Linked DNA regions of Homo sapiens: region 1 is linked to region 2. The links come from fine-mapping of genetic effects on gene expression. A gene starts in region 2. The other region holds a variant in brackets. All regions are shown on one strand. Distances are from middle to middle.

The links.
Region 1: its variant is fine-mapped to the expression of COG6 in prefrontal cortex (CommonMind, PIP 0.95).

The regions. Positions count from the first base shown.
Region 1 is chr13:39,702,251-39,710,250 of GRCh38, reverse strand. All of the region lies in intron 13 of COG6 (component of oligomeric golgi complex 6), which reads right to left. Among named protein-coding and RNA genes, the nearest start is that of MIR4305, 42 kb to the right of the region's middle. The variant A/T (reference allele first, on the strand shown) is at 3,578.
Region 2 is chr13:39,646,079-39,658,744 of GRCh38, reverse strand. It overlaps COG6 (component of oligomeric golgi complex 6), which reads right to left and starts at 3,083. Exons shown (of 19, transcript NM_020751.3): 1 at 2,866-3,083. The coding sequence starts at 3,018. RefSeq lists a silencer at 2,770-2,819.

The DNA of each region.
Region 1 (8,000 bases), 54 kb before region 2:
AGCATCAAAAAAACCACTCAATATCTGGGAATAAATCTAACCAAAGATGTGCAAGGCCTGAACACTATGAAAGGTTAGTGAGAGAAACTAAAGACCTAAGTAAATGGAGAGATATATGATATTCATAAATTGGAAATCTTGGTATCATTAAGATATTAATTTCTCCTCAACTGATCTATAGATTTAATCAAAGCCTCAGAAAGCTTTTTTATTTTAAAAATGCACAAGTTGATTCTAAATAAAATGAAATCAATGGAATAAATAAATAATCTAAAATAAATCAATGGAATACACAATTACCAAACAAATCCACATACATGGTCATGTAATTTATGACCATTTCCACTTCACTGCAGTGGGAATGGATGGCCTTTACAATAAATGGTGCTGGATCAAGTGTATATCCACATGAAAATATGCACAATAGCGAAGATACGGAATCAACCTAAGTGCCCATCAACAGATGACTGGATAAAGAAAATGTGGTGTGTGTGTACATATAACACATATATATTTGTGGACACACACATATATGTGTTACATATCACATATACACACACACCACACATATACACACACACATATATATACACATACACTCACACCATGGAATACTATTCAGCCATGAAAAAGAATGAAATCATTTCTTTTGCAACAACATGAGTGGAACTTCAGGCCATAATCTTAGGTGAAATAAACAAAGTCAAATATTGCATGTTCTTATAAGTGGGAGCTAAATAATGTGTACACATGGACACAGAGTAGAATAATAGACAATGGAGACTCAGACAGGTTGGGAGGGTGGGAGGGGAATGGGGGATGAGAAATTACCTACTGGGTGCAATATACAGTACTCAGGTGATGATTACACTAAAAGCCCAGACTTCACCATTACATAATATATAAATGTAACATGACTGCATTAGTATCTCATAAATTTATAAAAATTAAAAATAAATAAAAGGAAAATGTTAAAAGGAACTATTATGTATGGAACATCCACCAGGAAGTAGGCACAGGCTTAGCAATTAGGCAGACCTGGATATATATTCACCCTTAGTGACTATGTGACCTAGGGCAGGTTAATCTACGTTGACTGTGCCGTAATTCTTTGTTTTACATTTAGTAAAAACTCAATTACATAGTGACAACTTACTGAAAGTCATAATGATTGGAAAAGTTAGAATTTGAGTACAGCTCTATCAGACTCCAAAGCCCAGGATTTCTCCTTGAGCCATATATTGCCTTTCTAATGCGGAGCCCCATCAATTGCTCACCCGAGATAAGTATCCCCAACAAACTCAGACTGAATCTTTAATTTAAGAAAGGCTATACCTGCATCGCAGCACAAAAACCACCTGCAACTACACTACTGGTACTAAGACAACCAATTATTAAATATCAACTTAACTGGAAAAAAACATAAAAGTCTCAGGTAACCTAAGAAATACATATGTAGCTAAGGACAAAGATGACTGAGAAGATTAGCTTCTAAGGCTCTTCTAGTTTTTCAATCTATCAAACATCTGTTGAAGACCTACTATGAGAACATGGTATTAGGTATTGTTATATTTTACCAGACATTACGACACGGATCAAGGCCAAAGGCAAGAAAAATTGAAAGCAAGGAAAATAAAGTAATTTAAACAACACACACACACACAAATTAAACTTGACCCCTACCTTCATACCATACTCAAAAATTTGAGATGGATTGAAGGCCTAAATGTGGAAGCTAAAATAATCAAGCTTCTTAGAGAAAAATACAGAAGAATGTCCTCATGACCTTGAGATAGCCAAAGATTTCTTAAACAGGACACAAAAGGAACTAATCATGAAATAAAAGCTTGTTATACAAGACTGAATTAAAAATTGAGAATTTCTGTTAATCTAATACATGACTAAGAGAGTGAAAAGACAGTTCAAAAAGTGATAGAAAATATCTGTGATGCTTATTATTCCATAAAGGACTTGTATCCAAACACATGTTTGAAAACTCTTATAAGTCAATAAGAAAAAGGTAACAACCCAGTAAGGACTCTCTGCAACAGTCTTTAAAAGACAACTTCAAAAGAAAGTACATCCAGCAGCCAATAAACATGAAAAATTGTTCATCACCATTAATCTTGAGAAAAATGCAAACTACAAGCAAATGAAATACCACCACACACTTTCTACAATGCCTAAAATTAAAAAGACTAACAACATCACGTACTGGAGAGAATGTGGAACAACTGAAACTCCCACATTTCTGGTGAAGTGATCTAGGACAATTACTTTGGAAAAATACTTAGCAATATCTAGTAAAGCTAATCAATCTTATAATCCAGATATTCCATTTCTGGGCATACATACAAGAGAAATAAAAACTTATGTCCACCAACACATGTATAAGACTATTAATAATAGCTTTATTTACAATATCCAAGAACTAGAAACATCCCAAATGTCCATCAGTAACAGAATGAGTAAATTGTGGTGAATATATATAATGAAATTACTACACAACAATTAAAAAATGAACTACTGAACATGCAAAATATATGAATCTTACAGATATGTTAAGTCAGGGCCAAAAAAGTATACACTGTATGAATCTATTTACATGAAGTTAATAGCAGGCAAAACAAGAGACAGTAGTCAGACAGCAGTTTACACCGGGGTTAGATATTGACTGGGAAGGGGAAAGAGGATGCCTTCTGAAGGGCTAGAAATGTTTTATATCTTATCTGGGTGATAGCTAATGAGCATATGCAAATACAAACATTCAACTAACTGTATACTTTAGACTTGGGTACTATATCTGCAGTTAAAAATAAAGCTTGGCTGGGTGCAGTGGCTCATGCCTGTAATCCCAGCACTTTGGAAGGCTGAGGCGGGCGGATCATGAGGTCAAGAGATAGAGACCATCCTGGCCAACATGGTGAAACCCCGTCTCTACTAAAAATACAAAAATTAGCTGGGTGTGGTGGTGCATGCCTGTAGTCCCAGCTACTCAGGAGGCTGAGGCAGGAGAATCACTTGAACCCGGGAGGCAGAAGCTGCAGTGAGCAGAGAGATTGTGCATTACACTCCAGCCTGGTGACAGAGCGAGACTCTGTCTCAAAAAAAAAAAAAAGTGAGCTCATTTGTTCTTCTTCTTCTTTATATTATTGTACATACTAAACATCAAGTCATTATTATTAAATACTTATTTCAAAATTTGAATATTTTCTAAGTGACAAAGTTGAAGTATACAGAAAAATTTCACATTTAAAAGCATTTAAAGGCCAGGCATGGTGGCTCATGCCTGTAATATCAGCACTTTGGGAGGCTGAGGTGGGTGGATTGCTTGAGACCAGGAAATCAAGGCCAGTCTGGCCAACATGGTGAAACCCTGTCTCTACTAAAAATACAAAAATTAGTTGGAGATGGTGGCGGATGCCTGTAACCCCAGCTACTCGGGAGGCTGAGGCAGGAGAATCGCTTGAACCCAGGAGGAGGAGGTTGCAGTGAGCCGAGATCACACCACTGAACTCCAGCCTGGACGACAGAGACAGACTCTGACCCAATCAATTAATCAATCAATAATTTTTTT[A/T]AAAAAAGCATTTAAGCTATTGAAAACTTCATATTCCATATATTAGAACCTCTCTTTTTTTAAATGTGTAGAGCTATACACAAAAGTCCTCATTGTTCTTGTGACTATTTACTTTTTATCCCTTCTGTAGTTTAGGTGCTCTGACTTTTACTAGAGAAAAATAAAAAGGTTGCACCATAAAAATTCCAAAAGCTGTTCCTACAACTTCATCCCACTACCAACTTTAGTTTTATTCTTTCAGCTATCTTCCATTTAAGGTCCTATAATTTTCTGTTGTGTAGCTTCTTAGAAGGCCCTTCGCCCATTTGCTTTCAAAAAATAAAGACTAGCCAACCAAACACAAAGTTCTCATATTTTTAAACTAATTTCCTCATTCTCTCTCTATATATATTTAAATATATATATATATATATATATAAAGGAGTATATATATATATAAAGGAGTATATATATATATAAAGGAGTATATATATAAAAGAAGTGTGTGTGTATATACATATATATAAATATATACATTCCTTTTGCTCTAAATACATACATTCTAGTAATTGACAATATGTGGAATTTAAGTTTTTAAGTCAATAAAATTGTCCAAGATAAATTTAGGACTGCAAACTAACATGTTTGAAATAATTTCAAATTACAACTTATTTTACACACTTTTATTTTTTTAAATATTAAAGCATTTCAGATAAAAAAAATTTGGTTTTCTGTTTGTTTTTCCTGGCAGAATCATCTGTAAGGAATAATGTAAAACTCAAACTATTCAACCAGAACAGCACCTCTCAAACTATAATGAGCACATGAACCTCCTGGGAATCTTATTAAAATGCATAATTCAATTCAGTAGGTCTGGAGCAGGACCTGAGATATCTGCATGTCTAGTAAGTTCCCATATGATGCCCAAGCTGCTAATCCACATACTATGCTATGAGTAGTAAAAAGAGATTCAAAGCAGTAACCATATCCTAGAATTTAAATGACAATTTATTTAAAGAATCATTTGGGGTTTGTTTTTTTTTCTCCAGAGGACTGGGCAAATCAATCCTGACTACTATTAACTTGATATGGGTTTCATTTAAGACAGGCTATATCCTTGCAATTAGAACTGCACTATTACTATAGTGAGAAATAATTTTAGAAAATGTCAGTCTAGCCTAAATTGACACAACATTGTGTCTTTTGCAGTATAGATGCATATTCTCTTTAAACTTCACTAGATTTGCAGTTATGAATATTTCAGGAGAGCTTGATAAGGAAGGGAGTATGCCTACTTGAATACTCAAGTGCTTCAAACTGCTTTGTTAGGGAAAAGGTACATCTTTCAATAAAATTATGTCCTTGAATTTCCTTTTTCTCACGCTAGATAAAGAATTAGCTCCCAAGTATGTCTTTTTAAAAGCACAAAAGCAATCATATTTTTAAAAATTCCTCTCTGGCTATACCTTTATTTTAAAAGCTATTCTTTCCAACAATTATACTATTCACTTAAAATTCTATTAACAAAAATTTCCACTTGGGTGCTTTGCTAATGAAGAACATGCTACAATAAATATTGTTTTCTTCATAAAGCTACAGTGTTTTTAGAGGAAGTGAAATCATTTACAAGAAGCAGAATAAGTAAAAGATATAACTAATATAAAATTATGGAACATTAAAATTTGATGAAAGGAAGATATTCTTGCAAAAAACCTGAAATGGTTGTAGATACAAGCAACATATGAGTTGTAAAGAGAATCATAACACGGTCGCAATCTAATGTAAAAATAACTCTAAATATGGCCCAGTTCATATCTGAGAAAAACATCCAGGGTTCAATTAGTAATAATGACAACAAAAACAACAACAATAATGATCAGAGCCCATTCACTGCTATAAACTCATATAAGCTGCAATATTGATTGGTAATTAATAAATTCAGATTACAATTACTTTCTTTCCTCATTTTCATCCTATTCTGTTCAAAGTTTTAATTGGAAGATGTCATCCTTCAGTTGCCTTTTACTATCCATTACAGATGACCCTTAAACAACACATGTTTAAACCACAAAGGTCCACATTTACATAGATTGTCTTCTCCCTCTGCTACTCTCTGAGACAGCAAGACCAGTCTCTCTTCTTCCTCCTCCTCAGCCTACTCAATGTGAAGACAATGAGGATAAAGACCTTTATGATGATTCACTTCCATTTAATGAATAGTAGATATATTTTCTCTCCCTTATGATTTTCTTAATAACATTTTCCTTTCACTAGCTTACTTTATTGTAAGAATACAGTGTATAATACATACAACAAAAAATGAGTTGACTGCTTATGTTATTAGCAAGGCATCCAGTCAATAGCTAATTAGCAGTTAGATTTTGAGAGTCGAAAGTCACACGCAGATTTTTTCAACTTCACAGGGGTCAGCATCATAACTCCCATGTTGTTCAGGAGTCAACTGTATGTTTTCCTGTTTTGTTGCAACTTTCATTTTAACTTTTACATGACTAATAAAATATATAGAAACTTACTATTAGGGGAATAAAATAAAATAAATGGATAACCACTTGGGAAAGAATAAGATACTAAGTTTTCAGTCTGAACAATAATAAACTTCAGTAGATTAAAAATTTGTTGCAAAAGTGAAACCAGGGCTAGGGCCAGGTGTGATGGCTCACACCTGTAATTCCTGCACTTTGGGAGGCTGAGGCAGGAGGATCACCTGAGGCCAGTAGTTTGAGACAAGCCTGGGCAACATAGTGAGACCATGTCTCTACAGAAAAAAAAAAAAATTTAAATTAGCTGGGCATGGTGGCATGCACCTATAGTCCCAGCTACTTGGAAGGCTGAGGCAGAAGGATGGCTTGAGCTTCAAGGCTGCAGTGAGCTACGATCCTGGGCAACAACAGTAAGACCCTGTTGCTTAAAAAAATAAATAAAGTGAAAACATAGAAACACCTAAGAAAATACATCTAAATAAATGTATTAAACAATCTATCATTTCCCCACTAATAGATGCTATCTTTATTATATATTAAATTCTAAATGTTTTTTCTTGTGGGAATACTTTCAAGCATGGAATGCTCCCAAGGGAAAAAAACTATAAAAAAAGTTCTATTGAACTATAAAAAAATTAAAAGTTGATGTGTCAGAAAATACTACAGGCAAATTTTAAAGGCAAATGATAACGTGGAGAAAATGTCTGTAATATATATGATGGAGTTAATATTCTTAATGCATAAAGAATATCAGAAATGAACAAGACAACCCAATAGGAAAATGGCAAAGGACTTGAACAAGCAATTCACAAACAGCCAAAAACATATCTTAAAATGTTCATTCTCACTAGAATCACAGAAATCCAAATGAGAAAAACAACAAAATGTCGCTTTTGCTCGTCATGTTGGTAAAGATTTTTTTTTAATGTCCATTATCCAGTTTTAGCAAGAGTTGGCACTTTTTCAGTAGGAGGTAGTATGGTAGATTTGAGGAAATGGGTGAAAATAAGTGAGGTAAATGTGAGTGGCTGCCAAAGGACAATCAGTATTTGCTGGACCTCCTGGGGGGCTTTCCTGATGTTGGAGACAATTTTTAGTGATTCCTGTCTGTATGATGTAATTTTCTTTAGCAGAGCTCAGGAAAAATTGAAAAATTGAATTAACTCAAGGTGGTTTTGCAAAGTGAATGTGGTAAAATGGCAAGGGTGCAAGAGATTTAAAGCTAATGGCAAGATAGTGATGGAATATAGGCCAGCAGAAAATGAACTGAACCATTCATGTTACCAGTATTTATTGAGCACCTCATGAGCTGGTATATAAGAAAATTAATTACATTTGTATATTGATCTTTTCACCAACGACTTCACTAGAATTCATTTTCTGGTTGTATAGCTTTTTAGTTGATTCTCCTAGGTCTTCAAAATAGACTATCATAACATCCATAAATAATCTAATGTCTCCTCCTTTAAAATATTTACAATTCATTTCTTTATCTCATCTTTCTACCGTGGTTATTATTTAAAAGTATTGGCAAGCATTCTTGTTCTTCACTTAAATAGAAGAACCACTAGTGTGTCAATATTAATTATGATGTTGGCTGTTAGTTTTATCTCTCTTTATATGGTTAAGGAAGTATTCATCAATGACTTGTTTTAATATTAAGATTTTCCCCAATGTGATCAAATATGAGAATATAAAATTTATTTTATATACTCATTTAGTATATTTCCTAACACTGAAACATTCTTATATTCATGTAATAAACCATTCTTGGTTTTAATATATAAATGCTGAATTTTGAAGTTTTAAAACTTAAAAAGTGACTAATCTATGGTTTCCACTACTGACTATCTTTAAAAGGTTTTATGTCGGTGTTATACTACCTAAAACAAACTGGGAAGCTTTCCATATTTTTTCATGTTCTGGAGAATTATCTGTTCCTC
Region 2 (12,666 bases):
CAGCCAGTCATGGGGACAAAGCCTTCCACAGACAGAGCAAACAATGAGTACAAAGACCCTAAAGTGGTAGAAGGAAGGCCACTATGACTGAAGTTATGAGAAATTATTACGATTTTAGGCAGGGGAGTAATGTAATACGATTTATATTTATAAAAGTTTATTCCAACTTTGTAAGGAAAATGAATGGTAAAGGGGTACAAGAAAGGAGGTAGGTAAGAGAAAAAACAAAAATAATCCCAGTATGGTTTGATAGTGGCTTAGACCAAGATGGCAGTAGTACAAATGAAAAAGAGATATTCCAAAATATGGCACGGTGGCTTACACCTGTAATCCCAGCAGTTTGGGAGGTCAAGTTGGGAGGATAGTTTGATGCCAGTTCAAGACCAGCCTGCATAACATAGTAAGACCCCTATCTCTATAAAAAAATCAAAAAATTAGCCAGGTATGGTGGCATGTGCCTGTAGACCCAGCTACCTGGGAGGCTGTGGCAGGAGGATCGCTTGAGCCAGCAAGATCAAGGCTACAGTAAGGCCATGTTCTCTCCATTGGACTCCAGCCTGGGCGACAGAGTGAGACTTGGTCTCAAAAAAAAAAAAAAGATATTCCAAAAATATTCTTCAAAGTAGAACCTATAAGATATGTTTGTGGATTTGCAGGAGATGTAAAAAAAAAAAAAAAAAAGTGACAAGAATCCAAAATTATTCATATGCTTCTTGCTTGACTGGGTAAATGGTGACGTTCTTTAGTGAGAGCGGAACCAGTTTAGGGAAAAATCAAGAGTTCCGCCCATGTTAAGTTCTATGACGTCAATCAGTATCCAATTGGAGGTATAGTATAGACAACTAATTCTACAAATCTGGAGCTCAGTAGATGTCAGAAACAGAGTTATAAATTTGAGAGTAATCATGCTTTTTGCTACTTAAAACCATGAAAGTACAAGATTTTTCTTACAGAGAAAACATGAATGGAAGAGAGAGCAGAGAACCAAGCCCAGGACATCCCCATTGTACACTAAATTCTGCAGATATACATTTCTACACCTCCACTACTGTATATTCTAGTAGGCTTACCCTTTCATGTTTCTATTTGTTATTTTGAAATATTGGCTGGATTGACAAAAACAGTAAAACTATTTATATAAATTCAATTTAATATTTCAGAGGAAGCAAAAATATGTTTACAACTATAAATACTTACTGTACAGAAAAAAAAAACCCATGAAGTGAAGCAGTTTCTTTAGACTATAGCCTTGAAATGTCCTAAGGTCTGGTTCAAAGAAGTAATCAGTAATGTTGAACGAATGAAATCACAGACTCAGATGCAAATTACAGTTCCACCAGTTACTAGTTATATGACAACCTAGCTGCACTCTCTCCATGCTTTATTTTCCTCATGGTAAAAAGAAGGTTATGTGGCCGGGCGCAGTGGTTCACGCCTTGTAATCCCAGCACTTTGGGAGGCTGAGGCGGGCAGATCACCTGAGGTCAGGAGTTCAAGACCAGCCTGACCAACATGGAGAAACCCCGTCTCTAATAAAAATACAAAATTAGCCAGGCGTGGTGGCACATGCCTGTAATCCCAGCTACTTGGGAGGCTGAGGCAGGAGAATCGCTTGAACCCGGGAGGCAGAGGTTGCAGTGAGCCGAGACTGCGCCCATTGCACTCCAGCTTGGGCAAAAAGAGCAAAACTCTGTCCAAAAAAGAAGGCCATGTTATCTATATCAGAGCAAGTAGCAGTCTTAAATGATATAATAAATATCAATATGAGACACATTAAACACTTCATAAATTTTATGATAAAATTAATATTTGTTAAGAAAGAGTAAGTGCCAGGCTCTTTGCAAAGGACTTTACCTGGAGTCTCTCACTGAGTCCTCAAATAACAACCATGAGAAACTTAACAGCAGGATTCCTAATTCCTAAACAGAAGCTGAGATTAGTGAAGGGACTTACTCAAATCATGATGCACACATTTAGTGGTTCTATCTAATAAGTGGTAGTCTCCAGAGCCCTAATTTCTTATTCATTACATTGCAATGTTATTTTTTTACATATCGGAATCAAATTGTTATCGACAGCTTATTTTCAGTTACCTACATATTCACCTATAAAACTCTCTAACTTTGACATATGTTCTTCTTTATGTTACACTGTCATGACCAATTTACCTAGCGACCCACAGAGACAGAAGAGATGGCTGGGTATGTGAGGAGCTGTAAAGTCCAACTTAAGTTTCAGGAGGTACTTGTGAGAGCATGCTGTCAGTTTATCTTCTAAAGAAATACAGCCTGAGCCCACAAATCATAGCGCTTGGCTCAACAAAAACTAGTAGATATGAGTTCATTTCAGCCACGGGCAAAGGTAGTTCTTTCGCGCTGCAAATTATTGCAATTGTTGTCACTTGTCCGTGGAAATGCACCCTTATCCCTACCACTGCTCTCTTGGTCTCCCGACCCCCATTTGCGCTACCTTATCTTGGAATCTGCTCTTTTGCATCTGTTTCATATCCAGTCTTGTGCTCTCCTCCACTCTCCCAGCTCACACAGCCAAACGCCTCCAGGGGTGTTTGGAGGACACTTCTCGAGGCACCACCGTTCACCAATCCCATCCAGAGAGCCTTGAAGGCACCTTTTCAGGTGGAGAGAACACCCAGGAAACCCCTTCGCTTTTCCGGAGGTTGCTGGGGCTCCCCCTTCTCACCGCCCCCGGCGCCCGCAGAGCAGCGGAGCCCGCAGGTCTGGGGTCACTCGCGGTCCCTCTGCTGCCGGGACGAGGGAGACCGCGGTGGGTCCCTGACAGACGCCGCCCCTGGCCCGGCTCAGCCCCGCAGGAACCTGTGACTCCGGCCCCGCCAGCCCCGGTTACCTTGTCGTTGTCCAGCCGCGTCTCCAGGATCTTATGCAGCTTGCGCGACAGCGGGTTGCAGGTCGTCGCCGAGGTCCCGCCTGCCCCATTGTTGAGGCCGTTGGCAGCCCCGGTCGCAGACACTGCGACCACTTCCCCGCTGCCCTCTGCCATAGCGCTGCGCGTCCCGCCCCCTGCTGCCACCTCAGCCAGGCAGGGACCACGGAGGCAGCGCGAGTATTGCGCATGTGCAAATCGGCCGCGCATGCGCATCGGCCCCGGAAGTCTTCGCCGGGTAACCCTGCTTGGGCTCTCAGAAGCGTGAGGGGCGGAGAAGATGTGGGGGGCGGGACAAGACCCTCAGGTAGAAGGAGAAAATTTATAGGATTAGAGAGGACTTTGGAATTATGGATCTGCGACCTTCAGAGCTAATTAGATGACAACCAAATGTAGTATGTAAAATACACCATGACTTGTGCCTGGCATATACATTCAATATAAGTTAACTGAAAGTTTAAATTACATTTGCCTTATCTGAATTCATTTTTTTGAAAATTATTTATTGAAGGCATAGTATGTGCCAGGTACTCTGGTAGGCATTGGAGAATCTACATTGTGTGTCTGAAACAGACAAAGCTGTTAATAGATGTTATTAGGTTGTGATGAGTGCTCAGGGGATGAAGTAGTACAGTGAAAGAAAATGGAGGGAAAGGCCCACTTCACTCAGGGAGGTTTGGAGAGGAGTTGACACTTAAACTGAGATTTGAAGGAGAATCAGAATGTGAGGAGAAATCATTCCCAGGCAGAAGAAAGTGTGTAAGTGTACAGGCCTCAAAACAAGATGAACTTGGCCCTGACACAAATGGACCAGAGCCCATGTAGCTGTAAAGTAATGGATAAAAATGTAACAAGTTGAAAAAACTTCCCGGGAAACTCTGGAAAACAAACATCATTGCTTTTTTTCTTTCTTTTCTCAGTTTTTAAAATTTGGATCAAAATAAAATCGCTGGGCTTCTGTGAATTATTTGTCAGAAACACTATTTGGCTCTTGTCATAAATTTTCCTTGTTTCATATATGTCTATGTACATAGTTATATTGTATATCAGACTTAAGGGAAAATTACCTATTACAGAGGTCACATAAAGAAAGCACTGACAAAACCACTCATCTCTACTCTAATGAAGAAGAGAAGGCCCAACTATCCAAAAGAAAAAAATATACAAAAAGCAGCAATATCTAGGTATGAATTCAACAAAAAATACAGAGAACCTAGATGAAGAAAACTTTAAAATGCTACTGGGAGAACATAAAACTTAAATCAATGAAAAAATATATTGTTCTCTTCAACAGGAAGACTCAATATTGTAAGATGTCTTTTCTCTTTCACAGATAAATTTAAGTTCAGTGTAACCAAAATTAAAATATCAAAGGTTTACCTAAGGTGTATATATCCAAATGAATTTGCATATATACAAAGCAATAATATAATGTAGAGCTTGCAAATATGTACAATTAAAAGGAATGACGATGATAACATGCCAAGTCAGGAGCGGTCATGAAATACCACATATTGTATGACCTCTTTATGTGAAATCTCCCAAATAGGTAAATCAATAGAGATAGAAAGTAGATGAGTGGTTCTGGGAAGAGGAGTGTTGGGAAGAGGGAATGGGGAGTGTCAGTTCATGGTACAGGTTAATTTTTGGGGAGATGAAAATACTCTAAAGCTAAATTGTGGTGATGGTTGCACAACTCTGTAAATATACTAAAAAACACTGAACTGTACACTTTAAATGAATGAATTGAATGGCATGCAAGTTTCATCTCAAATCTGTTTTTTAGGCCAGGTATGGTGGCTCACACCTGTATTCCCAGCACTTTGGGAGGCTTAGGCAGGGGGATCTCGAGTTCAGGAGTTAAAGACCAGCCTGGGCAACATAGCGAGACCCTGTCTCTACAAAAAAAAAAAAAAAAATACGAAAACTAGTCGAGTGTGGTGGCATGCCTGTGGTCCCAGCTACTTGGAAGGTTGAGGTGGGAGTATCACTTGAGCTCAAGCCTGCGGTAAGTCATAATCATGCCACTGCCCTCTACTCTAGCCTGGGTGATGGAGCAAGGCCCTATCTTAAAATTGAAAAAAAAAAAATAAAGCTGTTTATTTTAAAAAGTAAATTGGAGATAAATAGACAAAATGTTTAAGTAATAAAAAATACAAATTTATATTAATTTTTAAAATCTTTATTTAGATATAATTTACAGGCCATAAACTTCACCTATTAAAAGTATAAAATATGACAGCTTTTAGTTCATTTACAGAGTTGGCAAATATCACCATCATCTAATTTTAAGACATTTTCATTACTTTAAGAAGAAAACTGTACCCACTAGCACTCCCCATTTTCCCCTCTCTACCACCCTAGGAAACCACAAATCTGCTCTCTGTCTCTATAGATATGCCAGTTTGGACATTTCATATAAACAGAATTATACAATATGTAACATTTCATGCCTGACTTCTTTCACTTAGCATAATTTTTCAAGGTTCATCTATTTTGTAGCTTGTATCAGTGTTTCATTCCCTATTATTGCCAAATAATAATCCATTGTATGGATCTCCCATATTTTATTCATTCGTCAGATGGCTATTTAGGTAGTTTCAAATTTTTGGCTTTTATGAAAAATGTCTCTGTGAATTTTCATGTGAGAGTTTTTGTGTGGATGTATGTTTTCACTTTCCTTAGGAAGATACCTAGGAGTAGATTGTTCTTATGGTTAACTCTATGTTTAATGTTTTGAGAAACTGTCAAATAGTTTTCCGAAGTGACTGCCCCATTTTTCATTCCCACCAGCACTGTATGAGGGGCTCCAGTATTCTTCACATCCTGACTAACACTCATTATGGTCTGTCTTTTTTATCTTATCCATCCTACTCAGTGTGATATGATACCTCATTGAGATTTGGCTTTCCATTTCCTAGTGACTAGTGATATTGAGTTGTAAGAATTCTTTATATATTCTGGATACTAGTCCTAACAATTTATTGGAAAATATTTTTTCCTACTTTTGCTTGTCTTTTCACTTTCTCAATGGCATCCTTTGAAGCACAATTAATCTTAATTTGATGAGATACAACTTATCAATTTCCTTTTTTATTATTTGTGCTTTTGGTGCCTTATTCAAGAAATTATTACCCAACCTAGATCACAAAAATTTATTCCTGTGTTTTCTTCTATTACATTGGCACAAAAGTAATTGCAGGTTTTGCCATTGAAAGTAATGGCAAAAATCGCAATTACTTTTGCACAGGCCTAATAAAATTTTATAGTTTCAGCACTTATATTAAAGCCTATCTTGTACCTTGAGCTAATTTTTGTGTATGGATGTTAGGTAGGGATCCAGTTTTATTGTCTTAAATGTGGATATTCAGTTGTCTCCCACACCATTTGCTAAAAGGACTATTCTTTCTCCCATGTGAGCTTTTCTATAGATTGAGAAAAAGCCGATGATAAAATCCAATATCCATTCATGATTAAAGAAACAAGTAAACTCTTAGCAATTTGAATAAAAGGGGATTTCCTTAATTGGATTGAGAGTATATACAAAAAAAAACCCTATGACAAACATCACACCTAAGGAAATATTTAAAACTTTCTCCTTGACATCAAGAATAAGACAAAAACTATCCACTAACACTGCTATTCAATATTTCACTAGAAGCTCAAACCAGAATAATAAACTAAGAAAAAAGTCATAAAGATTAGAGAGAATTTTTAAAATTTACACTTTTTGATAGGTGATGCAATGTGTCCCTAGATAATCCAGAAGGATCTATAGAAAAAGTGTTAGAATTAAAATAATAACCTATTTCACATATTGTTTTCCAAAACTCCAAAAAGGACAGGATCTTGGAATTCAACTAGCTTGCAAAAGAAGTTGTGTGACTCTTTAGCACCTCATTGCAAAAATGTGTTTTTATGTTGGTCAGGACTTACTTCATCAATTACCGCTGCCTGTAAAGGTGATTAAAAATCCAAAATTAAAAAAGATATGGAGCCGGGTGTGGTGGCTCATGCCTGTAATCCCAGCTACTCAGGAGGCTGAGGCAGGAGAATCGCTTGAACCTGGGAGGCAGAGGTTGCAGTGAGCCAAGATTGCACCACTGCACTCCAGCCTGGATGGTAGAGCAAGACCCCTTCTTTAAAAAAAAAAAAAAAAAAAAAAAGAAGAAGAAAAGAAAAAGATACAGAGGCTGGGCACAGTGGTTTATACCTGTAATCCCAGCACTTTGGGAGATAGAGGCAGGAGGATCACTTGAGCCCAGGAATACGAGACTAGCCTGGGCAACATCAAGAGACCCCACTTCTATAGAAAATTTTAAAAATTAGCCAGTTGTGGTGGTGCATGTTTGTATCCCAGCTACTTGGGAGGCTGAAGTGGGAGGATCACTTGATCTCAGAAGGTTGAGGCTGCAGTGAGCCGTGATTGCACCACTGCACTCCAGCCTGGGTAACAGAGTGAGAATCTGTCACCAAAAAAAAAGAAAAAAGAAAGAGAGGGAGGGCTGGAGGCGGGTGTGGAGAAAAGAAAAGAAAGCAGGAGAGAAAAGAAGAAGGAAAGAAAAGGAGAAGGAAAGAAAGAAAATATTTGGGCTGGGCATGGTGGCTCACACCTCTAATCCTAGTACTTTTGGAGGCTGAGGCAGGCAGATAACTTGAGCCCAGGAGTTTGAGACCAGCCTAGGCAAGAGGGAGAAACCCTGTCACTTCAAAAATACAAAAATTTCGCCAAGCGTGGTATCGCACACACCTGTAGTCTCAGCTACTCAGGAGGTTGAGGTGGGAGGATTGCTTGAGCCTGGGAGGCGGAGGTTGCAGTGAGCCGAGATCATGCCACTGCACACCAGCCTGGTCGACAGAGTGAGACCTTATGTTTTAAAAAAAAAAAATTGATTCCAATGTTATTTAAGTTATTCTAGGATTCAGGATTTCTTAACTTTGGCACCATTGACATTTGGGGCTGCATATTTTGTTGTTGTTGGGAACTATTCTGTTCACTGTAGGATGTTTAGCAGCATTACTGGCCTCTACCTACTAAATGCCAGTAGCATCCTCCCCAGTTGGAACGATCAAAATGTCTCCAGACATTGCCAATGTCCCTGAGGGGCAAAATTGTCCGGGGTTGACAACCACTGTTCCAAGCCGTAAGTATTTTAGTTATCTGATATTGCTTAACATATTTCCCCAAAACTAGTATATTAAAAAAAATCATAACTTCTGTCAGTCAGGAAATCAAGAGTGACTTGGCTAGGCGGTTTAGGCTCAGGGTCTCTCATGAAGCTGCAATCAGATATTACCTAGGACTGCAGTCATCTGAAAGCTTAATTGGTGCTGGAGGATTCACTTCGAGGTGGCTCACTCACATGGCTGGCATATGCTACTTACTAAAATGAGGCTCAATTTCTCACCAAATGGTCCCTCCCACAGGGCTATCTGAGTGTCCTCATAACATGGCACTCTTCCTGTTAGGCATTTACTATGGATATAATGCAAAAACTTCCCACAGTATATGAACAAAGATATTTATCTACCATGGTTTGTAATAGAGAGAAAAATAGAGATAGAGAGAGAAAGAAAGAGAAAGGAAGGAAGGAAGGGAGAAAAGCAGAAAGAGAGAGAGAGAGAAAGAAAGGATGGAAGGAAGGAGAGACTAAGGGAGGGAGGAGGAAAGAGAGACAACCAGAGTGTCTATCAATACAGGACTGAACAAATAAACTATCATGCACTCATTCATTCAGCAGAATACTATGCAAGTGTTATCTGCTATGAAGGAGATTTAAATGCTAACATGGAAATAATTCCACAATATACTCTGTGAAAAAGCAAGCTATATTATGTATGTATGATGAGATCACTTACGTGCACGAAATGGAGAGATACATATAAATTTAGATTTTTTTTCAGGATGGCATTCCAGTGGAAGGAAGGCTTCCATTTTCCATTTTGTACCTTTCTAAACTGATTGAAATTGTCTAGTCTTATTCATGTATTACTAAATATATTAACAGAGGTTATTAAGGTAGAGTAACCATGACCCACTTTTCTTGTTTATTTCTAATTCTCTGAATTAACAATTGTAAAAAAGTAAATGAGATAATTCATGAATTAAAATAATATGTGGTAGCATGAAAACAGGGAAATTATTTTATGTTTTAAATGCTTACTTAAGTATGTTTTTATGAGGTTAATTATAAATTGTTAAGAGCTTAAAATCAATATTTGTCAAGAGTTAAAATAAATTTTCAGGTGTGCCTCATCAGATACGTGTGTGTGTATGTATCCATATATTTTTGAAAGTAACGTTTTTTAGTGAAAATGTGAAAGATAATTGTTTATAGTAAGCTCCATAAAGTAGTAGAACATTAAAATAATTAAAAGATATGCTTTGACCTAAACATTTCAATTTAATAGGAGAACAAATACACGCATGTAAAAGAGCAAAGGATTTAAAAGAAAATGACAGAAGAACCATGCAGTAGACTGAAATGTGGAGATTCTTACCTTCTAAGAAATGATTGAGGCCAGATGTGGTGGCTCACCCTTGTAACTCCAGCACTTTGGGAGGCCAAGGTGGGCAGATCACCTGAGGTCAAGAGTTCGAGGCCAACATGGTAAAACCCTGTCTCTACTAAAAATACAAAAATTAGCCAGACATGGTGGTGCGCACCTGTAATCTCAGTCACCAGGGAGGCTGAGGCAGGAGAATTGCTTGAACCTGGGAGGCGGAGGTTGCAGTGAGCCGAGATTACACCACTGCACTCCAGCCTGGGCGACAGAGCAAGACTCCATCTAAAAACAAACAAACAAAAAAAAAAAAACAAAGAAAAGAAAGAAAAAAAAGAAAAGGTTGAAAGGAGGGCCTCTCCAAGTTCCTATTCCTCTCCTTTAGATCAAGCTCGTCCAACCTGAGGCCCACAGACTGCATGGATATGGCCCAGGACAACTTTGAATTCTGCCCAACACAAATTTGTAAACTCACTGAAAACATTATGGATTTTTTGCAATTTTTTTAGAGCTTCAGCTATCATTAGTGTTAGTGTATTTTATGTGTGGTCCAGGGAAGCCAAAAGATTGGACACCATTGCTTTAGATGGTTAAGCTTTCTTGCCCTTTGGCTTCTGAAATAAGAGGAAGTCACTTTGTATTGGTTACTGTGGCTTCATCAAAATATAATATGGCATTTATTACGGCTATGTCTAGTGAGTCATAGAATTTTCAGCCTTCGACATCTTTCATTGTGTTGATAATAGTAGCTCCCGTTATTTAGCAACTATGTTTATTGAAAATCAGGCTCTGTGCTAGAATTTATTATACACTATTTTTATCTTCACAGCTACCCTGAAACATAAGGATCATTACATTATCATGTAATTAGTACTCCTCTTGATGAGTAATCCAAGACTAAAGAAACCTTTCCAAGGATATATGGCTAACTCAGATAACACAGCCAGCTACCACCTAAGTTGGCGTTTAGCTAAAGGGTTCAGCCAGGCGTGGTGGCTAATGCTTATTATTCCAACATCTTGGGAGGCCGAGGTGGGCAGATCGCTTGAGGTCAGGAGTTCGAGACCAGCCTGGCCAACTTAGCGAAACCCTGTCTCTACTAAAAATACAAAAATTAGCTAGGCATGGTGGTGTGCACCTGTATTCCCAGCTACTCCAGAGGCTAAGGCAGGACATTCTCTTGAACCGGAGAGGCAGAGGTCGCAGAGAGCCAATATCATGCCACTGCACTCCAGCCTGAGCAACAGAGCGAGACTCTCTTTTTAAAAAATAATAATAATAAATGAAAAATAAATAAAGGGTTGCATTACTGCTTTCTCGGTTTTGAGCTGTGTACACCTCTCCCTTGGAATGTAAGCAAAAATTTTTGCAGCTAAACGTTCAAATGTGTTTTATGTTGGTGTTGCCTTGACCAGGTTCTTACTGCCTTCACAGTGACACCAGCATTATTTTTCTAAAACACAGATTTGATCCTGTCATTTTTTTGCTTTAAAAATCGTGATGGTTTGTGAAACAGGTATCTAGTGGGGATCTTTAAAAAAAACAAAAATAAAGAAAAAAGAAAAGTAAAAAAGTAATAAAATGAAATAAAATAAAAACTGTGATGGTAGTTATCAAATAAATGAATGTTTTATTATGGTATACACAGGCATTCATAATCAGATCTCATCATCAGATTTCATGTTATCACTCTGGCCTTATTTCTAGGCACTTGCTTCATGATTGCAACATTCTGGCCATACTCTACTTGCTAGGCTACAAGTGCATCACAAACTTTCATCTCCTTTTGTTGGCTCCTACAACCCACTTGTGTTAGTCCATTTGGGCTACTATAACAAAATACGTAAACTGGAGAGCTTTTAAACAACAGAAATTTATTTTTCACAGTTGTGGAGGCTGGGAAGTCCAAGATCCAGGCACTGGCATATTCGGAGTCAAGTGAGGGCCCGCTTCCTTGTTCATAAATGGCTCCTTCTCACTGTAATTTCACAGGTAGGAGGAAGTGGCTAGTGAGTTCTTTGAGGCCTCTTTTGCAAGGACACGAATTCCTATCATGAGAGCTCCACCCTCATGGCCTAATCACCTCCCAAAGGCCAAGCCTCCTAATTCTAACTTGGGAATTAGAATTTCAACTTATGAGTTTTGCAGGGACACAAACATTCAGATTTTGGCACCACTCTTTCAGGAAAGCCTTCTCTTATAAAACTAGTGATATCCAATTTGTCCTTCAGGCCCCACTCAAACAATTCTTTGTACCTTCATGAAGCACCCTACCTCTCCTTGAGCAGAATTAATTGGTCCCTCATGCAAATTCCACATCATATCATTATTTTTAAAATTTCTTTTTATATTTGTTGTTCCCCCACTAGACTCGAAGTACCTGTATGATAAGGACTATGTCACTCATCTTTGTCTACCCAGTTTCCAGCACAGCATCAGGCACAATATATGTGCCTTAGTAGGCTAAAGGCTTACTCAATGAAAAGGATTGAAATGAAGTTTTATGGCTTTGTAAGTTAGGGTTCTTAATTGCAATTGTTAGGAGCAGACTGAAGACGATTTAAATAGAAATGTATTTATTGAAAGAATAGTGGGTAGGTCTTAGAATCAACAAGAAGGAGGAAGAACCAAGCTTGTAGGAGAGGCAAAAACATAAGGAAACTAGGCACACATAACCATCATCAAAATCACTGCACAAAACAACTCATCATGGACCCATTGTGAGATGGACAGATTGCTCCACCCACACTGCAATGTCTGCAAAATGCTATAACAATGCCTGGGTTATGAAATAAGATGTATAGAAGCTGAATTATCTAATTTGGAAAATAACACACAACTGCCACATATATCTGAGCTATGTCACACCACCATCAGTGAAACTATACAATCAACCTTTTCAGTCCAAGTCCCATACAACAATTCCTCGTTCTCCGACAAAGTACATATATTTACACACATTTCCTATTCTCTTTCAGTCTCAACGTTCATCTGGCACACACATGTCCATGCATATACATAAATACATCGTCTAGTATTAAGGTATAAATATTCATGTACTTTCTAAAGCTCTGGTTGTGTCCTCTTTCTTTATATATTCATTCATTCTCTAAAAGCAAAATTCTAATTGTGTTCACTTGTCTGTTCTTGTAGTCCCAACCTGTAGGGTTGCCTTATTTATTCAGTACATACCACATTTAACCCCTCAATAGCAGGGTCTCCAATTTAAATATCACAGTTAGTAATTTCATTATTCAACCT